3 separate regions of the Homo sapiens genome follow, and regions 2 and 3 are each linked to region 1. Evidence: fine-mapped expression QTL. A gene starts in region 1. Each other region holds a variant in brackets. All regions are shown on one strand. Distances are between the middles of the regions. Region 1 holds the start of BCR (BCR activator of RhoGEF and GTPase). Region 2 overlaps BCR (BCR activator of RhoGEF and GTPase). Region 3 overlaps BCR (BCR activator of RhoGEF and GTPase).

Region 1 (9,743 bases):
GGGCACGGTGGCTCACACCTTTAATCCCAGCACTTTGGGAGGCCGAGGCAGGGTGGATTGTGAGGTCAGGAGATCGAGACCATCCTGGCTAACACGGTGAAACCCCATCTCTACTAAAAATACAAAAAATTAGCCGGGTGTGGTGGCAGGCGCCTGTAGTCCCAGCTACTCGGGAGGCTGAGGCAGGAGAATGGCATGAACCCAGGAGGCGGAACTTGCAGTGAGCCGAGATCGCCCCACTGCACTCCAGCCTGGGGTACAGAACGAGACTGCATCTAAAAAAAAAAAAAGAATGTCATATATTTGGAATCATACAGTATGTAGCCTTTTCAGAATAGTGTCTTTTCATATGGTAATAGGCATTTAAGTTTCCTCCATGTTTTTCCATGGCTTGTCAGCTCCTTTCTTTTTAGTGCTGATTAATATTCCATTGTCTGGATGTACCACAGTTTCTTTCTTTCTTTTTTTCTTTTTTTTCTTTGAGACGGAGTCTCGCTCTGTCACCCAGGCTGGAGTGCAGTGGCGCGATCTCCGCTCACTGCAAGCTCCGCCTTCCAGGTTCACGCCATTCTCCTGCCTCAGCCTCCCAAATAGCTGGGACTACAGGTGCCTGCCACCATGCCCAGCTAATTTTTTGTATTTTTAGCAGAGATGGGGTTTCAACATGTTAGCCAGGATGATCTCGATCTCCTGACCTCGTGAGCCGCCCGCCTCGGCCTCCCAAAGTTCTGAGATTACAGGCATCAGCCACTGTGCCTGGCCTTCTTTTCATTTATTTATTTAATTTGAGACAGGGTCTCACTCTGTCGCCCAGGCTGGAGTGCAGGGGTATGATCATAGCTCACTAAAACTTCAACCTCCCTGGCTCAAGCAATCCTTCCACCTCAGCCTCCAGAGTAGCTGGGACTACAGACACATGCCACAATGCTCAGGTAATTTTTTTATTTTTGGTTTTTTGTTTTTTGTTTTTTTTTTTTAGAGATGGGGTCTCACTATGGTGCCCAGGCTGGTCTCAAACTTCTTCTCCGTTATTATTTACTATTTATTTATTTTGAGACGGAGTCTCGCTCTGTCACCTAGGCTGGAGTGCAGCAGCACGATCTTGGCTCACTGCAAACGTCCATCTCCTGGGTTCCAGCGATTCTCTTGCCTCAGCCTCCTGAGTAGCTGGGACTACAGGCATGCGCCACCACACCAGGCTAACTTTTTCATATTTTTAGTAGAGACAGGGTTTCGCCATGTTGGTCAGGCTGGTCTTGAACTCCTGACCTCAAATGATCCACCCTCCTCGGCCTCCCAAAGTGCTGGGATTACAGGTGTGAGCCACTGTGCCCAGCCTCTATTCTTTCATCTGTTGACTGACACCTGCATGCTTTCCATCCCCAGGGCTTTGAGGCATGAGAAGTTCTGCATTGTCTCCAGCAGAGGGGGCGGTTGGGTCCCAGCCTGTTCTTCCAGTAAAGGGAAAGGGTGGCCTCCGGGAGGGGTTTGCTGGAACTTTTGCTTGGGGCCTAGGAACCACTTGGGCTGCTGCTGAGGGTGTGTGACGGTGTGTGTGTGTGTTTTGATTTTAAAATTACTTCTAGGCTGGGCACTGTGGCTCACGCCTGTAATCCCAGCACTTCGGGGAGCTGAGTTAGGAGGATCACTTAAGCCCAGGCGTCTAAGGCTGCAGTGAGCTAGGATTGCAATAATGCACTCCAGCATGGGTCACAGAGCGAGACCCCCATCTCAAAAAATATATAAGTAAATAAATAAATAATAGAATCATGTAACCACACTCAGAGAACAAGGGAAATTGAGGGGGAACATCACCAAAAACCCCACTTCTCTGTTATATTTTAGTTTCGAGATTTAAAAACATAATATGGATTGGGGATGCTGGAAATACTTGTTATCTAATTGTGGCGATGGCTTCAAAGTATACACAGATGTCAACACTCATCAAATCGCACTCCTTATGCGCAGTTTATGACACTTCAATTATACTTCAATAAAGTTGTAAAAAAAAAAAAAGCTGAGTGTGGTGGCTCACGCCTGTAATCCCAGTACTTTGGGAGGCTGAGGCAGGTGGATCCCCTGAGGTTGGGAGTTCGCAACCAGCCTGACCAACATGGAGAAACCCCGTTTCTACTAAAAATACAAAATTAGCCAGGAATGGTGGTGCATGCCTGTAATCCCAGCTACTCGGGAGGCTGAGGCAGGAGAATTGCTTGAACCGGGAAGCGGAGGTTGTGGTGAGCTGAGATCACGCCATTGCACTGCAGCCTGGGCAACAAGAGCAAAACTCCGTCTCAAAAAAAAAGAAAAAAAGATTGTAAAAAAAAAATTTTTTTTTTTTTTCAGACAGAGTCTCGCTCTGTCACCCAGGCTGGAGTGCAGTGACGCAATCTTGGCTCACTACAAGCTCCGCCTCCTGGGTTCACGCCATTCTCCTGCCTCAGCCTCCGAGTAGCTGGGACTACAGACGCCCACCACCACACCCGGCTAATTTGTTTTTGTATTTTTAGTAGAGTCGGGGTTTCACCGTGTTAGCCAGAATGGTCTCGATATCCTGACCTCATGATCTGCCCGCCTCGGCCTCCCAAAGTGCTGGGATTACAGGCGTCAGCCACGGCACTTGGCAAAAAATCTATTTTTTTTTAAATTACAAAAGATAGGTGGGTTGGCTTGTTTGTTTGTTTTTTCTTGAGACAGAGTCTCACTCCATCACCCAGGCTGGAGTGCAGTGGCGTAATCTCCCCTCACTGCAACCTCCGCCTACTGGATCCAAGCAATTCTCCAGCCTCCGCCTCTGGAGTCACCATGCCCAGCTAATTTTTATATTTTTGGTAGAGACAGGGTTTCACCATATTGGCCAGTCTGATCTTAAACTCCTGACCTCAAGTGACCCGCCCGCCTAGCCTCCCAAAGTGCTGGGATTACAGGCGTGAGCCATAGATAGGCGTTTTATTATGAAGAATTTAGAAAAGCATGATGATTTAGAAAATAAATGTCACCCACTGCTCATAGACAGCTGTGGAGCCCTTGGTGAAGCCCCCTCCTCCTGCTGAACCCCTCAGAAGGCTCCTGGGGTAGCGCTCAGGGCCCATCCAGCCTCCAGCTTCTGCAGCCAAGTTCCAGGGCCCACCTCTGCCCTGCCGGCCTCATGATGCCAGACTCAGCTAGCATCCTTCCCACTGAGGGAACAGCAGCTATCAGCATGAGGCTCTGCCTTCTTCACTGAGTCTTCTCCGCTCAGACTCCAGGGTCCCCATCATCTCCCTGGCCAGTCCCTTCTCAGTCCCTCTGCCTCTACTTCCCCCCTAGTCCAGTAACTGTCCCTTCTCCACCCAGCCTCACGCAGGCAGGGGGAGAGTCTCCAGCCCCGTGGCAACAAACAACATCGATTCACTGGCAACACTCCACTTTCTCTCTGAGGTCTTCATTGCTCCTTGGTGCAACAGGGTCACCCTCTGCCTGATGCCTGCTCATGGATGGGCTATGCGGACCTGAAGCCCTGTGCAGGCACCTCTGCTTGCCTGTTGCAGTCACCATCCCAAAGTCATCCCCATGAGCTGGCCTCCCTCTGTTGGGGAAAAGCTGGGTGTGGGGAGAGAAGCTGAGGCAGGGCTTGCATGTCTGCTAGACTTGCTGGCTCCTTCCTTCTAGCACTCTCATTATCTCAAGTAGCCATATGTTTCAAAGAAAATGCTAAACTGTCACAGCTGTAGCTCATTTGCTTGATACACCGCTTCCTTTCAATCCCCACATCCTCACCACCTGTTTCTTTGTTTGATCACCAATAAATAGCATAGGCTCCTAGGGCTAGAGGCCTTTGCAGCCTCTATACTAGCGTTGGCCCCCTGGTCCCACTTTCTCTCTTGCCTTTTCTCACTCCTTTGACTCCGCCAGACTTTGTCGCCCCCACGGCCTGGTGTTGGGTCTGATCACCCCAACATCCCTCATTCCCCACACCCACTCCATCTACAAGTCCCATGAGTTTTACTTCCAGAATGCTCCTGAATTCTAACCCCTTCTCTGGGGTACCTTGCTTCTGCCCTATTCTGGGTCACCAATGCCTTCCTCATAAACAATTGCCACAATCCCCAACCACTCCCCCTACTCCCACCTCCCACGCCCAACCTTCCATGCAACAGACCCCAGCAAGTCACCCCGCTTCCTGTGCGGTTGAGTACAGCAGCCACGGTGGCCATTGAAACTCACTAACACGAAACCAAACATTCAGTTCTTCAGCTGCCCCAGCCACGTTTCAGATGCTCAGTAATCACACGGGGCAGCTCGTGGCTGCCACATTGTGCAGCACAGATTACAGAACATGCCCATGGTACTGGCAAGTTCTATCGGACAGTGCAGGTCTAGAACCTTTGAGCAGCTTTTCCTTGCATTTAGAATAAAACCCAAACTTTGTGCAGGCCTACAAGGCCCTGCCTCACCTCTGATCCCACTTCCTACTGCCTACACCAGCCTCATCTCCCAACCTGGCTGCTCCTCAAACAGAACTTTGAAGCCTCCTTGTCCTTTGCCTACCTGGTCCTTGTCCTTAGGACCAGCTCAGGCATCACCTCCCCTGGCAAGCCTTTCCCCGAACTGTGCCTTCTCCCACAGGACACACACACCTTTGCTATAGCCGGGCTGTGAATGCCTTATCACTTCCTCCCCCATACACAGGCATCGCTCTCGGTGACCTATCTGCCCTCCAGGCCATGCACACATCTGGTTCCTCATTCCACCAGACCTGGTTGAGCACTTACTCTGAGCTCACTATATGAGAGACATAGGGGAACAAGACAAACAGGTCTGTGACCTTGCAGAGTTTAGATCTAGTTGGAACAGACACTGAGTGGGGGATTACAGAGTGTTATGTGTGTCTAAACCCCATGCCCATGCCCATGCCCTGCTGCATTCCTCCCTAGGGAGGGATGGATGATAAGAAAACTCTACAGGAAAGGCCCAGAGGCTCAGGATAGGGGTGCTTTCAGGGAAGTCCTGAGGAGAGAACAGTGTCCTTGGGGCCAGAAGAGGCTGTCCCACAAGGGAGAAAGCCACTATCTGGACGTGTCCTTGTGCCTAACAAAAAGCCATTTGCTATGCCAAGAGAACAGAGCATGCAAACTCAAACTAAACAGCTTCAGAGTTTACTTAGAGACAGGGTCTTGCTCTGTTACCCAGGCTGGAGTGCAGTGGCGTGATCCTAGCTCACTGAAGCCTCAAATTCCCAGGCTCAGTGCAATCCTCCCACCCCAGCCTCCTGAGCAGGTAGAACTACAGGCACGAGGCACCATGCCAGGCTAATTTTTAAATTTTTTTGTAGAGATGGAGTCTCACTATGTTGCCCAGGCTGGTCTTGAACTCCTGGGCTCAAGCGATACTCCTGCCTCGGCCTCCCAAAACACCAGGATTACAGGCATGGGCCACTGTGCCTGCCTTTATCATACCCATTTTAAAGAAGAGGCCATTGAGGGCTGGGTGCAGTGGCTCACACCTGTAATTCCAGCACTACAGGAGGCCAAGGCGGGCAGATCACGAGGTCAGGAGTTCAAGACCAGCCTGGCCAACACAGTGAAACCCCGTCTCTACTAAAAATACAAAAAACTAGCTGGGCGTGATGGCAGGCGCCTGTAATTCCAGCTACTTGGGAGGCTGAGGCAGCAGAATCACTTGAACCCAGGAGGCAGAGGTTGCGGTGAGCAGAGATCACTCCACTGCACTCCAGCCTGGGCAACAGTGTGAGACTCCGTCTCAAAAAAAAAAAAAAATAGGCCACTGAGGATGAGAGCACTGCTCAGTATGGCACTACTGGGATTCCAGCCCCTTTAGTGGCCAGGGCATCATTTGCATCTCAGTTTCCTCACATGCAAAATGGGCTATTTGCAGCCTGATGGGAAGGGGATGAGAAGGTCCGCTGGGTCCAAGGGACCAGGATGGCAGGAGGTTAGCAAGGCCTGCAGAGGGCAGCAGTGAGCTGCGCACCGCCCACCCAGCCTAGAAACTGGGGCCCATGGGTTTTCCAGGGCAGGAATGTTCTCCAGGGGCACTAATATTAACAGGCAATCACGAAATCGACCCCTACACACCATTTATCAGGTTGTGTTTTATGTTTGCCCCATCTGGGCATTTTATGCAGGATGCTCTCAACATTTTGTACCGTGGCCCACAGGACTGGGTGGAAGACAGGACAGCTCAGAGCAGGGAGTGAAACAAAATCTTTGATGGTTCTCTAGGGAAGCCTGGAAATCTGAGACAGGGCAAAGAGCAGGGAGTCTGATGAGCACAAAATTAAAATACCCAAACCAGCCTGCCGGGTCAGGGGAAAAGGAAGCAGGATTGGGCACATGAAGAACAGATGACAAAACTGAGGCTCAGAGAGGCTGAGAGAGACACTGCTGAGGTCACACAGCCAGGAGTCGGCAGGAAGCCCTGAACCCAAGCAGGGCTGGCCTGGCTACTAGCCTGGGCTCAGTCCTTTAGATTGGACTTCAAAGTATCTGCTCCAGATGACGCTGGCATTGGGAGGAGGGCATGATAATCCCTAACATCCACACAGGGACAACAGCACTTGGAGGCAGATGTGCTTCTCACTTCAAGGAAACTGAGGCAGAGAGGGAGAGGTGGTCAGGACTCAAGCCCAGTAATTCATTTGCCAAATCCTGTTTCCTTTTCCCCCAACCCAGCGGGCTGGTTTGGGTATTTTCAGTTTGTGCCCATCAGAGTCCCTGCAGAGTGCTCTCCACTGTGTCTCAGATCTCTGTGTCCCCAGAGAACCATCAAAGGTTTTGTTTCACTCCCTGCTCTGGGCTGTCTTCCACCCAGCCCTGTGAACCTCAGTGCAGGTTGGCCGCCCCCTTAGAGGGAGGCTAATCAGGGAAGTTCTGAGTCAGGTCGTCCTGGAAAAACTACATTGACCTCTGGAGCTCAAGAGAGGCCAGGGGACAAACACATGGCTCAGCACACAGGAAGGCAGGTGTGGGTATTGAGTGACCTGAGGGAGAAATCCCTATTTATCATCCATCATGTGGTCCTGCTGTGACAAACCCGTGTGGCAGCCACCCACAGCAGATCCACAACGTGAGAGGCCCGCTGAAACAAGGGTGCTGGCATTGGTTACTCAGCCTGGCCCTCCCTGCCTTGCGGGGTGACCTGCCTGGTCCTGGCCTCTCTGTGAGTTGGGCCCTGCTGGGTGGTCCCTAGTGTGCCCAGCCCTGAGGCTGGTGAGAGGCCAGGCTGTGAGGTGTGAGGAACTTACCTGCGTCTCCATGGAAGGTGCCCTCCGCATCGTTGGGCCAGATCTGCCTGGTCTTGCAGATGCCCACGATGGTGGCCTCTGACACGACGACTGGGCAGTGCCGGTGACGCTTATGGCACTGCGGCGTGGTAGGGGCAGAGGGGGGAGGTTGCTTCTGTCGGAGGACTGCTGCGAGTTCTGCCAGAGAGAGCAGCTCTTGTCCCGGAACATGAGGTAGGTGGTGGGGCTTGGGGACACGCGGCTGGACTGGCCGGAGAAGTCCTCCTGGCCGGAGGGGAGCCAAGTGTTCCTGTTCCAGGACTGCAGAACTGGCCCAGACCTCTGTATTGGAAAGGTCTTTATGGACCAGGGAGTCCGGTGTCTTTTTTACGGGGGACCCCTGGGCTGCGAGTTGCACAGTCCAATTCGCTGTTGTTAGGGCCTCAGTTTCCCAAAAGGCACAGGGACGGGGGGAGGGTGGCGGCTCGATGGGGGAGCCGCCTCCAGGGGGCCCCCCCGCCCTGTGCCCACGGCGCGGCCCCTTTAAGAGGCCCGCCTGGCTCCGTCATCCGCGCCGCGGCCACCTCCCCCCGGCCCTCCCCTTCCTGCGGCGCAGAGTGCGGGCCGGGCGGGAGTGCGGCGAGAGCCGGCTGGCTGAGCTTAGCGTCCGAGGAGGCGGCGGCGGCGGCGGCGGCACGGCGGCGGCGGGGCTGTGGGGCGGTGCGGAAGCGAGAGGCGAGGAGCGCGCGGGCCGTGGCCAGAGTCTGGCGGCGGCCTGGCGGAGCGGAGAGCAGCGCCCGCGCCTCGCCGTGCGGAGGAGCCCCGCACACAATAGCGGCGCGCGCAGCCCGCGCCCTTCCCCCCGGCGCGCCCCGCCCCGCGCGCCGAGCGCCCCGCTCCGCCTCACCTGCCACCAGGGAGTGGGCGGGCATTGTTCGCCGCCGCCGCCGCCGCGCGGGCCATGGGGGCCGCCCGGCGCCCGGGGCCGGGCTGGCGAGGCGCCGCGCCGCCGCTGAGACGGGCCCCGCGCGCAGCCCGGCGGCGCAGGTAAGGCCGGCCGCGCCATGGTGGACCCGGTGGGCTTCGCGGAGGCGTGGAAGGCGCAGTTCCCGGACTCAGAGCCCCCGCGCATGGAGCTGCGCTCAGTGGGCGACATCGAGCAGGAGCTGGAGCGCTGCAAGGCCTCCATTCGGCGCCTGGAGCAGGAGGTGAACCAGGAGCGCTTCCGCATGATCTACCTGCAGACGTTGCTGGCCAAGGAAAAGAAGAGCTATGACCGGCAGCGATGGGGCTTCCGGCGCGCGGCGCAGGCCCCCGACGGCGCCTCCGAGCCCCGAGCGTCCGCGTCGCGCCCGCAGCCAGCGCCCGCCGACGGAGCCGACCCGCCGCCCGCCGAGGAGCCCGAGGCCCGGCCCGACGGCGAGGGTTCTCCGGGTAAGGCCAGGCCCGGGACCGCCCGCAGGCCCGGGGCAGCCGCGTCGGGGGAACGGGACGACCGGGGACCCCCCGCCAGCGTGGCGGCGCTCAGGTCCAACTTCGAGCGGATCCGCAAGGGCCATGGCCAGCCCGGGGCGGACGCCGAGAAGCCCTTCTACGTGAACGTCGAGTTTCACCACGAGCGCGGCCTGGTGAAGGTCAACGACAAAGAGGTGTCGGACCGCATCAGCTCCCTGGGCAGCCAGGCCATGCAGATGGAGCGCAAAAAGTCCCAGCACGGCGCGGGCTCGAGCGTGGGGGATGCATCCAGGCCCCCTTACCGGGGACGCTCCTCGGAGAGCAGCTGCGGCGTCGACGGCGACTACGAGGACGCCGAGTTGAACCCCCGCTTCCTGAAGGACAACCTGATCGACGCCAATGGCGGTAGCAGGCCCCCTTGGCCGCCCCTGGAGTACCAGCCCTACCAGAGCATCTACGTCGGGGGCATGATGGAAGGGGAGGGCAAGGGCCCGCTCCTGCGCAGCCAGAGCACCTCTGAGCAGGAGAAGCGCCTTACCTGGCCCCGCAGGTCCTACTCCCCCCGGAGTTTTGAGGATTGCGGAGGCGGCTATACCCCGGACTGCAGCTCCAATGAGAACCTCACCTCCAGCGAGGAGGACTTCTCCTCTGGCCAGTCCAGCCGCGTGTCCCCAAGCCCCACCACCTACCGCATGTTCCGGGACAAAAGCCGCTCTCCCTCGCAGAACTCGCAACAGTCCTTCGACAGCAGCAGTCCCCCCACGCCGCAGTGCCATAAGCGGCACCGGCACTGCCCGGTTGTCGTGTCCGAGGCCACCATCGTGGGCGTCCGCAAGACCGGGCAGATCTGGCCCAACGATGGCGAGGGCGCCTTCCATGGAGACGCAGGTGAGTTCCTCACGCCACGTGCGTGGGCACACCTGCACGGGGGAGGAAAACCATAGACGAGTAGGGGATACAAAACAGAAGTTGGGAGGGAGGAGTGGATAGTTTTGAGTGTATCAGGTGCACTTGTGGTTCACGCGGATCCTGCACCCGAACAAACTCCATCCCCTCCTCCTTC
Region 2 (5,000 bases), 130 kb after region 1:
GCATACATATAACATGTTTTTATTTCTGCATTTACTATTTGACAGACACTTGGATCATTTCTAGTTTGGGCTGTTAAGGTTGATGCAGCCACGAACATGTCCTTGGTACCAGTCTCTATATGGACGTATGTTTTCATTCACTGAGTAAACACCTAGTAAGATTGCTGGGCTGTGCAACAAGGTGACTATTTGGGGAACTGCCCTACGTTGTCTGGAGTAGCTGCACCATCTTACATCCCCAGTGGCCATGTATGAAAGCCCATTTCTCTACATCCTCACCGATGCTGGTTATAGTGTATCCTAAGGGAGAAGGGTGTGTTCCTTTTGAAGTGATGTTAGAGACTGGTTGGGATCAGAGAAGAGAAGCAAAGAGTTAAAAGTGGGATAGAGGCCAGGCGCGGTGGCTTACGCCTGTAATCCCAGCACTTTAGGAGGCCAAGTTGGGTGGATTGCTTTAGGTCAGGAGTTCAAGACCAGCCTGACCAACATGGTGAAACCTCGTCTCTACTAAAAATACAAAAATTAACCGGGCATGGTGGCAGGTGCCTGTAATCCCAGCTCCTCAGGGGCTGAGGCAAGAGAATGGTTTGAAGCCAGGAGGCAGAGGTTGCAGTCAGCCGAGATCTCGCCACTGCACTCCAGCCTGGGCAACAGAGTGAGACTCCGCCTTAAAAAAAAAAAAAAAAAGGTGCAGGATGGATCTCAGGAGAGCAGATTGTGGTCATAGACTACAGCAGGAGGCCTGTAATCTCTCTCCTGGTGAACACAGAGGTTCTCTGGTGGTCTCAGCAAAGACCCACCCCCGGGAGTAGGTTATAGTGCAGACACATGGGGCCCAGACAGGAACAACTGGGGTTGCCCTGCTGGACCATCCAGGCTGGTGACGATGGGCGTGAAGGAAGCTGTTGTCTACAAGGAGCTAAGTGAACAAGCATTTCCTCCTTTGGAAGGTTTACTCATAGCCCCCTCCCTGCCCCTGCTGAGGGTGGGTGAGAGGATGTCCTCCGGCTGCCCATTGGTGACTCAATCCAGCCACACTGACTACAAAGCAAGCAGGGCAGTGCTGGGCCCCCAGCAGAGCCACCATGCAAAGTGGTCAGTGATGCTTCAGGGCAGCACACAGCACCTGCCCCAGTTGGGCTTCGGCCTCCCTCAGCCCCCACCCCACCACTTCCCTGGGATGGATGTGCACGATAGTTTTCTAGGCAGACCTCTAGGCCACCATCTGCCAGGCCCGCTGACCATAGTCATTCTTTCAAGGCTCCTGCCTTACCCAGTCCAGGGGGAGAGGAGCAGCAACCTGGTCCATCCTCCTGAGACCACTGCATGTGAGCAGACAGACCCCTGCCTGCCCAGTCCCCGGCCAGGCAGCAGGCATGTTCCTCACCAAGACCTTGCAACCCAGGGGGACCCTGGACAGCATCCGGAGTGCCTCGGTTTTTCCCTTAAGGGAAAACTGTTTCCCCCTTGGTCATCTGTTTTTCCAAACCCCAGTCTTTTGCTTGTTTACTTCTCTGGTGCTTTAAATAACTGCACGAGAGAGCGTACCAGCCTTGAGCAATGTTTGGGATTGGCTGAGCTGAGGCACAGGCCTCATTATCATGCTATTCTTTATACGGCTTCCGCTCTGCGGCGCACACTCTGTTCTTTGGAACAGAGCCAGCCTTGGGACAGCCTTTCCCACTGGAGCTGCCAGTCAGGACCGCCGTGAGAGCCAGTGCCTGGAGGCCAACACCCTGGTCTTCAGTCACTGGGAGTCACAGAGAGGGGCCCGATAAAGAGCCCTCCTGGCAGCATCAGTACCAGGTTGGAGTGGGCGCTGGACACCACCAATGCTGGGGAGTGGACGCTGGCTGGAGCCCCACCCAGGGCTGCACATTGCTCAGCCAGCTAGCTCTGGGGGAGCAGGACCTGAGCAGGGTGTCCTCCACCCTGGGTCCATCAGAGGCACTGCATTTGATTATTGGGGTTACCTGCTGGGAGTGGTGCAGATTTTGGACAGTCTGGATTGCTTCCAGCACAAGGCAGGCTGACCAGTCATACTTTACTCAGTCTCCAAACTTGGGCAACAGGAAACTAGCCACTTGAGAAGGAAGCTCAGCTTTTCTGGGCTTTAGAGGAGATGGAGACACGTTGGAAATTCCCGTAACCAATAGGCTGGGGTGGGAGGGTGTTCTTCCCACACACACACAAAAAAGTGGAACCCGGAGGTGATGGGAAGCTTTGACCTTGGCCAGCCAGACTGCGGGGTGGGGTTTCCCTCAAAGCCTGGTCAAAAGGCC[T/G]TGGAGGCTGGAAGCTCTCGTTTAGCCCCACCAGCTTCCCAGAGCAGCAAGGCCAAGCATGCAAGAGTCACCATCCACCCTGGCCATGATGCAGGGCCTCCTTTGGTACTTCCACCCCAGCCGGGCGGGCCGGAGCCGGGCGGCCTCTGCTGAAAAGCACCTGTGGGCCGTGGTTCCAGGGGGGCTTTGAGGGGCAGCCGCTGATGTCTGGACAGCTTCTCTTTCTGTCTCTTCTTACCTGGACTCTGGGTTGCTTGTTAGCTGCTTCTGCCTGTTCTGGGTTTTCAAGGGGAGAGGGGCCCAGTGATGGCTGTTCTTTGAAGGAAAGGTAAGAATGTCTCCTGCTTAACATGTTTCTGTGTTTCCAGTTACTTGGTTGGTTAGTAGAGCCAGGGTCTCTCGCTTTGTTGCGCAGGCTGGAGTGCAATGGCATGATCATGGCTCACAGCAGTCTCCACCTTCTAGCCTCAAGTGTTGCCCCCACCTCAGCCTCCCGAGCAGTTGGGACTGCAGGCACATGCCACCATGCTTGGCTAATGCTTTTGAAAATTTTTTTTTTATAGAGACAGGGTCTCACTATATTGCCCAGGCTGGTCTTAAACTCATGGGCTCAAGTGATCCTCCTGCCTCGGCCTTTCAAAGTGCTGATATCACAGGCAGGGTTTCCATTTTTTAAAGCTCCCAGCAGTGGTATAAACTCCTCCTTTCCAGAGAAAGCGCACTCTGTCCGCATCCCTCATGTTGTCCTCTCCTGCCTCTGCTTAGGGTTCACTCCGGGGGAAAGTGCCACTTGAGAGTTTCCTTTTTATGTGTGGTTCTGACTGACCGCTCCCTGCTCACAGATGCTGCTTCTCAGGGTGGGGTCCCTGAGGCCTGGAGTGTGGCCTCTGACGACCTTCAGGGCCAGGTGCGGAATGAGAGCCTGTGGCCGCATGGCCCCCGGTGGGAGACGTCCCGCCGCCCTTTGCTTCTCTGTGCCACTCTGGCTGCACAGTTCAGAGCCTTGGGAAACGTTAACCAGTAGGACCTAGAAGGGGAGGTGAGAAGGGGTCAACCCCCAGGTGTGCCTGTGGTGAGCCTTCGTGCTGAGCAGGTGCAGGGAGGGAGGCCCAGGTGCACACACCTGTGAAGTAGGGGGGCAGCTGGCTGGGCTCCTTGACCTGCTCCAGAGCTTCTTATTTTCTGGCCACTTCACCTGCAGAAGGCCCAGGTGGCTGTAGCCGCTAGGGTCCCTTGCAGTGGAAATGATGCCTGTCCTCAGCCCCTCTCTAGGCCTGGCACTGTGCTCAGCACCGTCGTGTGTGTGTATGTATATGTGCACGCATGTGAATGTGTGCAGACATCATGAGGTGTGGTCCCTGCTGTTAGGCAGCTTGCCTTGTGGCTGAAGTGAACCATCACCTGAATCAAGGGATGGAAACACAAGGCCAGATGCAGTGGCCTTCTATGGAGTCAGACGGTGGCTCCGTGACCTGGCTTCACTCCAGAACTACCTGGGGTTTCTAGCTGTGTAAATCCCAGGTCCCACTCAGATTATGAGTCAGTTCTCTGCAGGTGGAACCCAGGGAGGTGTTTTTTTTGTTTTTGCTTTTATTTTTGAGACGAAGTCTTGCTGTGTCGCCCAGGCTGGAGTGCAGTGGCGCCATCTTGGCTCACTGCAACCTCCACCTCCTGAGTTCACACCATTCTCCTGCCTCAGCCTCCCAAGTAGCTGGGACTACAGACGCCCACCACCACGCCCAGCTAATTTGTTGTATTTTTAGTAGGGACAGGGTTTCACCATGTTAGCCAGGATGGTCTCAACCTCCCGACCTCGTGATCCGCCCACCTCAGCCTCTCAAAGTGCTGGGATTACAGGCGTGAGCCACCGCACCTGGCCAGGGAGGTGTATTTTTAACAAGATGGTACTGCTCATTCACCCAGCCCAGCCAGTGATCTTGGCATACCCAGGAACCGCTGACATAGAACGTGCTCCCCATAAAACGGGAGACAGAGGCTTCACGGATGGGGGACATGTGGCTTGGTCATGACAGGGTGTTACATACCAGGACAGACTGTGTTCGGGTGACATTAAGGACAAGCTCCTGCAGGCTAGCTGTCTGGATAGTGCCGGGTGGGGGTAGAAGTTAGAGGGGTCACAGAGGGGCTTCCTCCCGGCCCCCTCATCAGCTGCTTGATTTAGGGCTTGTTTCTGGGTCCTTCTGGGCCTGATTCTGAACCATGGGACTGGTGTGGCCTGCAGGCTCCTCCCGCCACAAGCTGTTCATGGTGCAGGGGGAGAACAGTGTCCACAATTCCCCAGACAGCAGCTGTGGATGCCAGGCCCCCAGGAGTTGTTACTGAAGTTGCTGCTGGACAGCTCACCTTTCACTGAGCTCCACATAGCACCCGTGGTGATGGAAGCCGGATGGAGAGAGCCTGCCAGCCTGCACATCAGCTCCCAACTGGGCGGGGCAGAGGGAGGAGGGGGTGGGGACCCCAGGCAGCAGGGCTCTGGGAGCAGTGGGGCCCTGGGTTCCAGGGGTGTCTGGCAGGCCCCTCCTTACTCTACCTCTGTTGGCCTCTGGATGGAGGTGCTGGCCGCAGTCGGGCTCTGCCTCTGACTAAGGGTTGGGGAAGTGGCGGGTGTGGGCTGCTGCCCCGTGGGGCCTCTGAACAGACCCCAGGGCCTCTGCCAATCATGACTCCTTCCTTTCAGCTGGACCCGCAGGCCCTGCA
Region 3 (10,051 bases), 140 kb after region 1:
GGGAGGAGTCAGATGAGCTGCTCAAAGCCCAGGAGGGACCCGCACAGTGGTCAGCATGGCAGGGACAGTGCTTTAGCCAAGGCAGGGATGGTGGGAGACTCACTCGGGATCCTCAAGGAGGCCGCTGCATTTCCGTGCTCTTTCCAGATAACAAGGACGTGTCGGTGATGATGAGCGAGATGGACGTGAACGCCATCGCAGGCACGCTGAAGCTGTACTTCCGTGAGCTGCCCGAGCCCCTCTTCACTGACGAGTTCTACCCCAACTTCGCAGAGGGCATCGGTGAGCACTGGAGGCCTTGGCCTCATGGGAGACGTCTCCTCCACGTGCACTGCTGCCCTTGGAGGCTGTGAAAAGTGAGGTGTGGGAACCCAAGCTGTGCCCCCTCTGCCATGGTCGGCATTTTAACCCAACCTCAAAAAGCAGGGGACCAGAACCGAGCCTGTCCTGGAAGGCCTTGCCCATCCCTAGAGGGCTCCCTGTCCCTACTCCTCAAGGAGACCAAGAGGCTGAAATAGTCAGCACTGCTGTGCTGTGGGGTCCTAAAGTCTGCTGTCCTCCTTCCTGCAGACCAGGGCTGAAGGAGGGTGCCTGGGTGCTCTTGCCATGGGTCCTGGTCCAGCCAAGCATGGTTTCAAACATGACCTGACCCTTAGTCAACCTGGAGGCTGATGTCTAGAGTGGGTGCTGGTGTGTGCAGTACCTGTGGCCTCTGCATCACCCTTAGGGCAGGTCTGCCTCCCGGGCCCATGCACAGAGGACCTGGTCTCCCAGCCTGCAGGTGCCCCTGTGGTGTCCAGGACGACGAGGGGGTCTCTGCGTACTTGGTGGGGCTGGGACCCTCCCACTTCCCACCTCCTTGTGTTCCTCACTCCCCTGTTTCATTCCATGCTGAGCCTCCCCTGCCTTGGGCTCCTCTGGGGAGGGGGTGGTGGCAGGAGTTGTCCAAGGGCAGCTCTGCCCATGAGCAGCTGCTCTAGCGGCTCCTCCTGCTGCTGTTTGCCGGGTGCTGCTGACCCCTGCGAGGTAGAGAAAAGGCGTTCAGGTGGTTCACACCCCACACAGGTGCCCCTCACAGGGTCCTCAATGGGGGCCAGAGCTGTGAGACTGAGGATGATGACGAGCCTGGGCTGTGCAGGGACACAAGCCCCAGGTGCTCCATGTGAACACCTCGGGAGAGGTCTCTGGCTCGTTGTGACCCCAAGGAGTAACCCACCGCCTTCTGCAGCTCTTTCAGACCCGGTTGCAAAGGAGAGCTGCATGCTCAACCTGCTGCTGTCCCTGCCGGAGGCCAACCTGCTCACCTTCCTTTTCCTTCTGGACCACCTGAAAAGGTAGCCCAGCTCTCCCATGGCAGCCCAGGGCTCCAGGTCCCCAGGCCGCAGAGTGCCCCTCTGCTCCCACTAGACCCCCAACACCGAGGACCTTTTCTCCTGACCCTTGTCTGCAGTCACTCACTGCCTTTGGCGACTAGTGCCACTGCCACCCCTGCCCCAGCCTCTCTTCTTTGCCACCCTCCTCTCTCTGCACTGTGGCCTTAAAAAAGAGCTCAGAGCTTTGGCCGTGGCCAGCAGTGCACTTGGACCCCCCTCTTCCCTCCGAGTCACATCAAGTAGGAGACCTCCCCACCAGCCCAGAGCTGGCTCCTTGTCCTGGGCCACTGAGACCCAGAAGTACCAGGGCTGGAGTCAGCTTGCAGCACAGCCAGGGTCGAGGTCACTCCCTTCCTGAGAACTCCAGCACAGCCCAGCCCCTCTGCCTCTCTCCTGGGGGTGGCGTTGAAACAGCACCCGCTGCTTTGGTCCTCTACAGGGTGGCAGAGAAGGAGGCAGTCAATAAGATGTCCCTGCACAACCTCGCCACGGTCTTTGGCCCCACGCTGCTCCGGCCCTCCGAGAAGGAGAGCAAGCTCCCTGCCAACCCCAGCCAGCCTATCACCATGACTGACAGCTGGTCCTTGGAGGTCATGTCCCAGGTATGGGAAGACAGGCTCCAGCCCATGCAACCCTGACCTGACAGAGGTGGCCTCTGCCTGCCCCACCCCCAGTCCTGCCCATCTTCTTACTTGCATTGTATGTGGTGTGGCCAACATTCACAGAGAGGGACTTGCCTAGGTCTGCATGGATGGGAGTGATAGTGGGGGCCCAGGCCACCTCCTGGTCCTGCTAGTGCACTTTGCTGGAAGCTTAAAACTACCTCAAGTGTTCGGGTGTGGTGGCTCATGCCTGTAATCCCAGCACTTTGGGAGGCCAAGGCAGGATAACCAATCCCAGGTGTTTGAAACCAGTCTGGGCAATGTGGCAAACCCCATCTCTAGAAAAAATAAAAAGAAAAATTAGCCAGGCATTGTGGCACACATCTGTAATCCTAGGTATCTGGGAGGCTGACACAGGAGGATTTCTTGAGCCCAGGAGTTAGAGGCTGCAGTGATCCATGATGGAGCCACTGTACTCCAGCCTGGGGGACAGAGCAAGGCCCTGTGCATCTCTAAAATAAATAACCACCCCCCACCCAACAAGTCATGCCTTGTCAGGACCCCACCCCACCCCCATCTCACTGTAAGGGGTTCATGACACCAGCAGGGGTCCCCAGCACCTGAGATGGACTTGGAGGCTTGGGCCCCAAAGACCTCCCACCAGCAGCTGTGAGCCCCGCTCTGAGCCACTCTTCTCTTCCCTACTCTGCCCGGGCAGGTCCAGGTGCTGCTGTACTTCCTGCAGCTGGAGGCCATCCCTGCCCCGGACAGCAAGAGACAGAGCATCCTGTTCTCCACCGAAGTCTAAAGGTCCCAGTCCATCTCCTGGAGGCGGACAGATGGCCTGGAAACCTCTGGCTAATC[G/A]GGCCATCCGTAGAGCGGGAACCTTCCTGAGGTGTCCTTGGGCCACCCCCAAGTGTTGGGCCATCTGCCAAGAGACAGCGACCCAAAGCCGAAGGACAGGTGGCCTGGAAAGATCCCGCCCAGGTCTGGGAGCCCCAGGCTGGCCTCAGACTGTGGTTTTTTATGTGGCCACCTGAGGGCGCCCCAAGCCAGTTCATCTCGGAGTCCAGGCCTGGCCCTGGGAGACAGGGTGAAGGGAGTGGTTTTTATGAACTTAACTTAGAGTCTAAAAGATTTCTACTGGATCACTTGTCAAGATGCGCCCTCTCTGGGGAGAAGGGAACGTGACTGGATTCCCTCACTGTTGTATCTTGAATAAACGCTGCTGCTTCATCCTGTGGGGGCCGTGGCCCTGTCCCTGTGTGGGTGGGGCCTCTTCCATTTCCCTGACTTAGAAACCACACTCCACTTCTAACAGGGTTTGAGAGGCTTAGTCAGCACTGGGTAGCGTTTTGACTCCATTCTTGGCTTTCTTTTTCTTTCCAGAAGGATTTTTGTGCAGAAATGGGTCTTTTGTTGCCATGTTAGTCCTCCTTGGAAGGCAGCTCAGAAGGCCTGTGAAATGTCAGGGGACAGGACCCCCAGGGAGGGAACCCCAGGCTACGCACTTTAGGGTTCGTTCTCCAGGGAGAGCGACCTCGTCCCCCGATCCTGACCGCCCTTCCGGCCCACGCTCTCCTGTTTGGCTTCCACAGGCCTGGACTTCTCTGGCTTCTCTGCCCACACACTCCCTGCCCCCAGTGTCCCTGCCCCTGCCCCAGCACAGGTGACTTCATTTCTGTCCTCTCAGCTCAGTGGACTCGCTCAACTTTTGTATAAGTCTCCACTTGGTGGCAGCAGCTTGCTGATGACTTGTTTTAAAACTTTCATCCTAAATAACCTTTTGATACTTGAATATTTGTAAGTTTTATACATAGTTTCTAATTTTTTTCCGAACAGATCCAGATACCTAATAAGATGCTGGAATGTAATCCCTGGACAATCCGTGTCCTGGCAGCATTTGGTCTTCCTCTAAGCGCCTGGCTCCGCTGTTCTCAGGAGTGGGTTCTGAAGTCTCTGGAGAACAGGATACGTGGAGGGTTAGGAAGGGGCCAGGCCTAGAGACGGGAGACTCCCTCCCGGAGCAGGTGGAGGCACAGGACCATTCGCTACCCCATCTGCCGACACCTGCGGGGGAGCCCAGGCATTCTTTGTAAACCCTCCTGACCACCTGGCTCAAAGAAAACAGAAGCATGGAGACCGCCAAGTATTTTCAAGAAATAACCCCATGAATATTCCATCACTTTTTTAGAAAGAGGGGCTTGGGGCAGGCAGAGGAGAGAAGGGAGAGCAAACTGAGAGCCAAGTTTCCACACGGTCCTGCAGGAGGAGAGGATGCAGCTGCCCAGAGGGAAGCAGGATCACATTTAAGGAAGTGTGTGGGGTCCCTGGATGACACCAGCACCCAGTGCGGCTCTGTCTGGCACCCGCTCCCAAGGTGGGAGGAGTGGGTGTCCCCTGTGTGTCAGTGGGCAGCTCCTGCTGAACCCGCAGCTCACTAGGGAGCCTGACAGTGGGGCCATGCGCCTGACACTCCTCTCTGCTTGTGGACCTGGCAAGGCAGGGAGCAGAAAACAGCCACTTGAAGGCTTTCTGTCTGCGTCTGTGTGCAGTGTGGATTTAGTTGTGCTTTTTTCTTGCTGGGAGAGCACAGCCACCATTTACAAGCAGTGTCACCGTCGTGGGTGGCGAGGACAGAACAGGAGCCTCTGCTCTCTGTACCTATCTGGGCCCGGTGGGCTCCCTTGTCCTGGCTTCCATCTCTGTCTCAGCGACCATTCAGCCCTGCGCAGGAACACGTGTTGCTTAGAAAAGCCAAATCCAGCCTTGTCTCTGCCTCCTCTGGTCTCATGATGTGCATCTGTTACCTTGAAACTGGAAACCAGTCTATCAATGTCTGTGCCAATTTTTTATTCCCTCCCCAACCTCCTTCCCCATACGACTTTTTATTTATGTAGGATGTGTGCTGTCTAATGATGGGATGACCACACTTTTCCATGTTCTAAAAGTGCTCCTCTCCCGCAGGGTCCCAGGGCTGGTGGTTGCTTTGGGTCTACAGCTACGTCTTACCCACCTCCTGCCTCAACAGCCTGTGTGGTGGCAAAGCCGGTGTGGGGCTGGGGAACGCAGCGTTCTCCAGGAGGGGGACCTGGCTCTCCTTCTGCAATGCAGGCGAAGGCCTAGATGCCAGTGTGACCTCCCACAAGGCGTGGCTTCCAGACTCCCCGGCCGGAAGTGATGCTTTTTTGCCTTGGGCCCTGGGTTTGAAGCAGCCTGGCTTTCTCTTGGTAAGTGGCTGGTGTCTTAGCAGCTGCAATCTGAGCTCAGCCACCTACACACCACCGTGGCCGACACTTTCATTAAAAAGTTTCCTGAGACGACTTGCGTGCATGTTGACTTCATGATCAGCGCCGCTGGGAAGAACCCCTGAGCCGGTGGGGTGGGGCTGGAAGCAGCAGGTGCAGTGATAGGGCTGGGTGCCCAGGAGGCCTCAGTGCTCAATCAGGCCAAGGTGGCCAAGCCCAGGCTGCAGGGAAGGCCGGCCTGGGGGGTGTGGGTGAGCACAGGCAGGCACCAGCTGGGCAGTGTTAGGATGCTGGAGCAGCATCCGTAACCCCACTGAGTGGGGTAGTCTGGTTGGGGCAGGGACCGCTGTTGCTTTGGCAGAGAGAGATGATCCCCACTGGGGAGAGGCTGTTCTGACTCTGCAGGTGGGACAGGGACAGATGGCCACCAGGGTGACCCGGCTGGTCTTCCTTTGCTATGCTAAGCCCTGGGACATGGAGGATTCCTGCCACCCTGGGCCCGGGTTCTTACCTGTGGCCACCGCTCTGGCACGAGCCCCTCAGTCTTGGGTGGTTTCTGCCTGGTCCGGGATTTGGTGTTGCTGCTGAGTCCAGCCTTTCCACCACCTCCGCATGGGCCGTGGGTGTTGTCAGCTGCCTCCCGCCTTGGCTTCAGTAGCTCACCCAGCTTACAGGGGAGCTGCCCTGGGCTGGAGATGGGCATGCACCCTGGGTCCTACTTGAATGAATGCAGCTTGAGGAGAGCCGGCCATATACACTGGGCCACAGGTTACCCTCGGCAATGCCCACAGCTGTCAGCCTGAGCCTCCCCAGGAGAGCAAGGCTCACACGACAAAGGCTGCCCGTGGCCAGTGAGGTGGCTGAGCCCAGCCAGGACCTTTCTCGGACTCCCGGGATGTGGCTCTGCTCGTGAGCTGCCTGGTCAGCTCTCTCGGGGTGAGAGGGGCTTGTCACACGGGCGCCTGCCTGCAGTGTGACCCTTCTCAGCTTCTCTCAGCAGCCCTGCCTGCGGAGTGTCACCGCCACCATGATCATTTCCCTGACACTGCGAGGGTGGGGGGACGTCCTGGGTAGAGACAGGGCCCGTGGCAGCAGCAGGCTCAGGGGAGCCCTGCACTGGTGGACTGGGGACCTGGTGGAGACCACGCCAAGGGCTGGACAAGGGGACGAGCCTCCACCCTGGCCTCTCCGCAGGCCTCAGCAGCCCCTCCCACAGGCAGAAGGGTTGACACTGGGTTCTGCCCTCACTGCAAGAGCTGCAAGTGCCACGTGCTGTTCTGCCCAATCTGGTGTCTGCAGGTGAGGAAAGGACTGCCGCTGGCCCGTTTCTGAGTGTTCAGCACCTAAGGGTGACAGCACTGTCTGTCCCTACCCTCCGGGTCCTGTTTGAAGATCAAACCCATGCTCACAGGCCGATATTTTTTTCTTTTAGAGACAGGGTCTCACTTTGTCACCCAAGCTGGAGTGCAGTGGTGCGATTATAGCTCAATGCAGCCTCCAATTCCCGGACACAAGGGACCTTCCTGCCTCAGCCTGCCAAGTAGCTTGGACTATAGCTGTGTGTTTTCTTATTATTTTGTAGACATGGGGTCTGGCTATGTTGTCCAGGCTATTCTCAAAATTCCCAGCCTCAAGCAATCCTCCCGCCTCAGCCTCTCAAAGGTTGGGATTACAGGTGTGAGGCAAGGCACCCAGCTCAGCCACAGAGCCCTATTGCATCTCTCTTACTAAGAGCAAGAGCTGACTTCCCCCTCATCCCCATTCCAGAGTGTTGGGGCTGTGTTCAGCCGAGGCCAGGCCACTGGCATGGGCCCAGGGAGCGGGATCATTCACTGCTGCCCCAAATCTGAGATCATTCCACCTTGACAAGACTTCCTCATCCAATCCCTTTACTTGACAGCTGGGGAAACCAGTGCACACAGAGCACCCCCAGCTCAGTCAGGGTCTCAGAGCTGATCCATGAGCGGAGGCTGAGATCCTGGGATCTTGTCCCCCAGCCTCCCTGCAAGCTTACTCCCTTTCTTCTAGAAGAGATGGGGCCAGACCTCGACCAGCAGCCCTGGCCTGGACATGACTGTGCTCATGCAGGTATTGAGGCTGAGATGCCCCGGCATCACATTTTTTTCTTTCTTTTTTTCTTTTTTTTTTGAGACGGTGTCTCACTCTGTCACCCAAGCTGGAGTGCAGTGGAATGATATTGGCTCACTGCAACCTCTGCCTCCCGGTTAAAGTGATTCTCCTGCCTCAGCCTTCCAAGTAGCTGGGCCTACAGGCTTGTACCACCACGCCTGACTAATTTTTGTATTTTTACTAGAGACGGGGTTTCCTCATGTTGGCCAGGCTCGTGTCGAACTCCTGACCTCAGGTGATCCACCTGCCTTGGCCTCCCAAAGTGCTAGGATTACAGGCATGAGCCATGGCATCACTTAAACGTAGTGAGAGGCCGGGCGCAGTGGCTCATGCCTGTAATCCCAGTACTTTGAGAGGACGAGGCTGTCAGATCACCTAAGGTCAGGAGTTCGAGACCAGCCTGGCCAACATGGTGAAACCGTGTCTCTACAAAAAAACAGAAAAAAATATCCCTGCGTGGTGGTGAGTACCTGTAGTCCCAGTTACTCAGGAGGCTGAGGCATGAGAATCGCTTAAACCTCGGAGGCGGAGGCTGCAGTGAGCTGAGATGGCGCCACTGCACTCCAGCCTGGGTGACAGAGCAAGACTTTGTCTCTAAATAATTAAATAAATAAATACGGCCGAGCATGTGCCTTAGGCCTGTAATCCCAACACTTTGGGAGGCTGAGGCAGGTGGTTCATGAGGTCAGGAGCCCGAGACGAGCCTGGCCAAGATGGTGAAACACTGTCTCTACTAAAAATACAAAAATTAGCCAGCTGTGGTGGCAGGCACCTGTAATCCCAGCTACTTGGGACACTGAGGCAGGAGAATCGCTTGAACCTGGAAGGCAGAGGGTGCAGTGAGCCAAGATTACACCACTGCACTCTAGCCTGGGCGATGGAGCAAGACTCCATCTCAAATAAATAAATTAATAAATACAGAGCAAGATTCCATCTCAAATAAATAAATGTACACCTGTAATCCTAGCACTTTGGGAGGCTAAGACAGGTCGATCACCTGAGGTCAGGAGTTCGAGACCAGCCTGACCAATATGGCAAAACTCCATCTCTACTAAAAATACAAAAATTAGCCGGGCGTTTTGACGTTTGCCTGTAGTCCCAGCTACTCGGGAGCCTGAGGCGGGAGAATCACTTGAACCTGGGAGGCGGAGGTTGCAGTGAGCCAAGATGGGGTGACTGCAGTCTAGCCTGGACAACAGAGAAACTCCGGCTCAAAAGAAAAATATAACTTCATAAAAACGAAGTAGGAAGAAACAGAAAACCTTGTCTAGATCTAGAACCATTAAAGGAATTGAATGTTTATTTTAAAATCTGTATCCCATCCAGTCAAAAATCTCACAAAAAACAAAACCAAAGAAAAGCACCTGGCCCAGATGATTTTATAGATAAGTTCAGCAAACATTAAGAAGAACAGAAAGTCTTTATCTTCTACAGAATTTTTTTAAAATAATTTATTTATTTATTTATTTTTGAGAGGAAGTCTCGCTCTGTAGCCCAGACTGGAGTGCAGTGGCATGATCTCTGCTCACCGCAAACTCCGCCTCCCAGGTTCAAGCGGTTCTCCTCCCTCAGCCTCCACAGTAGCTAGGATTACAGGTGTGCCTGGCTAATCTTTTGTATTTTTAGTAGAGACGGGGTTTCACCATGTTAGCCAGGGTGTTCTCGGACACCTGACCTCAGGTAATCCACCTGCCTCGGCCTCCCAATGTGCTAGGATTACAAGCACGACCCACAGTGCGCGGCCTACATAATTTTTTTTTTTTTTTTTGAGACGGAGTCTCGCTCTGTCGTCCAGGCTGGAGTGCAGTGGCGCGATCTCGGCTCACTGCAAGCTCCGCCTCCCGAGTTCAGGCCATTCTGCTGCCTCAGCCTCCCGAGTAGCTGAGACTACAGGCGCCCGCCACCACACCTGGCTAATTTTTTGTATTTTCAGTAGAGACGGGGTTTCACCGTGTTAGCCAGGGTGGTCTCGACCCCTGTCCTCGTGATTCGCCCGCCTTGGCCTCCCAAAGTGCTGGGATTACAGACATAAGCCACCACACACGACCCCGGCCTACATAACCTTACAGAAAAAGAAGCAAATGGAATTCTCCCCAACTCATTGTGAATTTAATATAAGCTTAAAACCAAACCAGACATAAATAGTACAAGCAGGCAAAAGTATAGACTAACTTCTTATGGACATATATGCAAAAATGCTAAATAAAATATTAGCAAATAATCCAGCAATGGATTAAACATGTATCATGACCAAGTTGGGGTTTTCCTAGGAAACTAAGATGATGTAATAAAAGAAAAAACTATTAAAGTAGTACAAACTATCAAAGGAAAAAACCTGTATGATCATTGCAACGGGTTCATTTGCGACATAATATAATTTTTTTCTTTTTTTTTAAGTCTTTTTGGCTGTAAGTTTATTCAATGCAAAATAATCTTCTCCAATTTTACTGAGGTGGCTGACGGCGTCCACGACCAAATCTGCCTCTAAACTGGAATTCGGTTGCTGACCCAGCCGCAGCCTCGGCTTTCTTGTTGGCACCAGGGGGCATAGCATTCCCTCTGTAGGTATCTCTGTCGGCTTCCCCTCTCGTTGAGTCTTGCAGGTCGCTCACCCTCCAGACCTTTAGACTGAGGCCTGCCAGTCCATGGACGGCTGCGGCGTAGGGTGGCAGGCACAATCTCCAGGGGCAGATGAAGG

What was found. PIP is the estimated chance that this variant, and not a neighbour inherited with it, causes the effect.
Region 2: its variant is fine-mapped to the expression of BCR in whole blood (TOPMed, PIP above 0.99). The same link has a PIP of 0.9 or more in uterus.
Region 3: its variant is fine-mapped to the expression of BCR in thyroid (GTEx, PIP 0.95).

Annotation. Positions count from the first base shown.
Region 1 is chr22:23,172,672-23,182,414 of GRCh38, forward strand. BCR (BCR activator of RhoGEF and GTPase) reads left to right here and starts at 7,838. Exons shown (of 23, transcript NM_004327.4): 1 at 7,838-9,568. The coding sequence starts at 8,290. It also overlaps a transcript of RSPH14 not described here and the pseudogene BCRP8. RefSeq lists enhancers at 1,276-1,325, 1,311-1,605, 3,698-3,797, 6,758-7,568 and silencers at 4,185-4,284, 7,689-7,928, 7,999-8,268, 8,289-8,368.
Region 2 is chr22:23,304,444-23,309,443 of GRCh38, forward strand. It overlaps BCR (BCR activator of RhoGEF and GTPase), which reads left to right. Exons shown (of 23, transcript NM_004327.4): 17 at 4,981-5,000. Among named protein-coding and RNA genes, the nearest start is that of LINC02556, 20 kb to the right of the region's middle. The variant T/G (reference allele first, on the strand shown) is at 2,283.
Region 3 is chr22:23,312,740-23,322,790 of GRCh38, forward strand. BCR (BCR activator of RhoGEF and GTPase) reads left to right here. Exons shown (of 23, transcript NM_004327.4): 20 at 148-282; 21 at 1,229-1,334; 22 at 1,813-1,975; 23 at 2,694-5,298. The coding sequence ends at 2,783. It also overlaps the pseudogene POM121L11P and the pseudogene RPS10P30. Among named protein-coding and RNA genes, the nearest start is that of LINC02556, 8.9 kb to the right of the region's middle. RefSeq lists enhancers at 1,245-1,746, 2,883-3,177 and a silencer at 2,928-3,047. The variant G/A (reference allele first, on the strand shown) is at 2,840.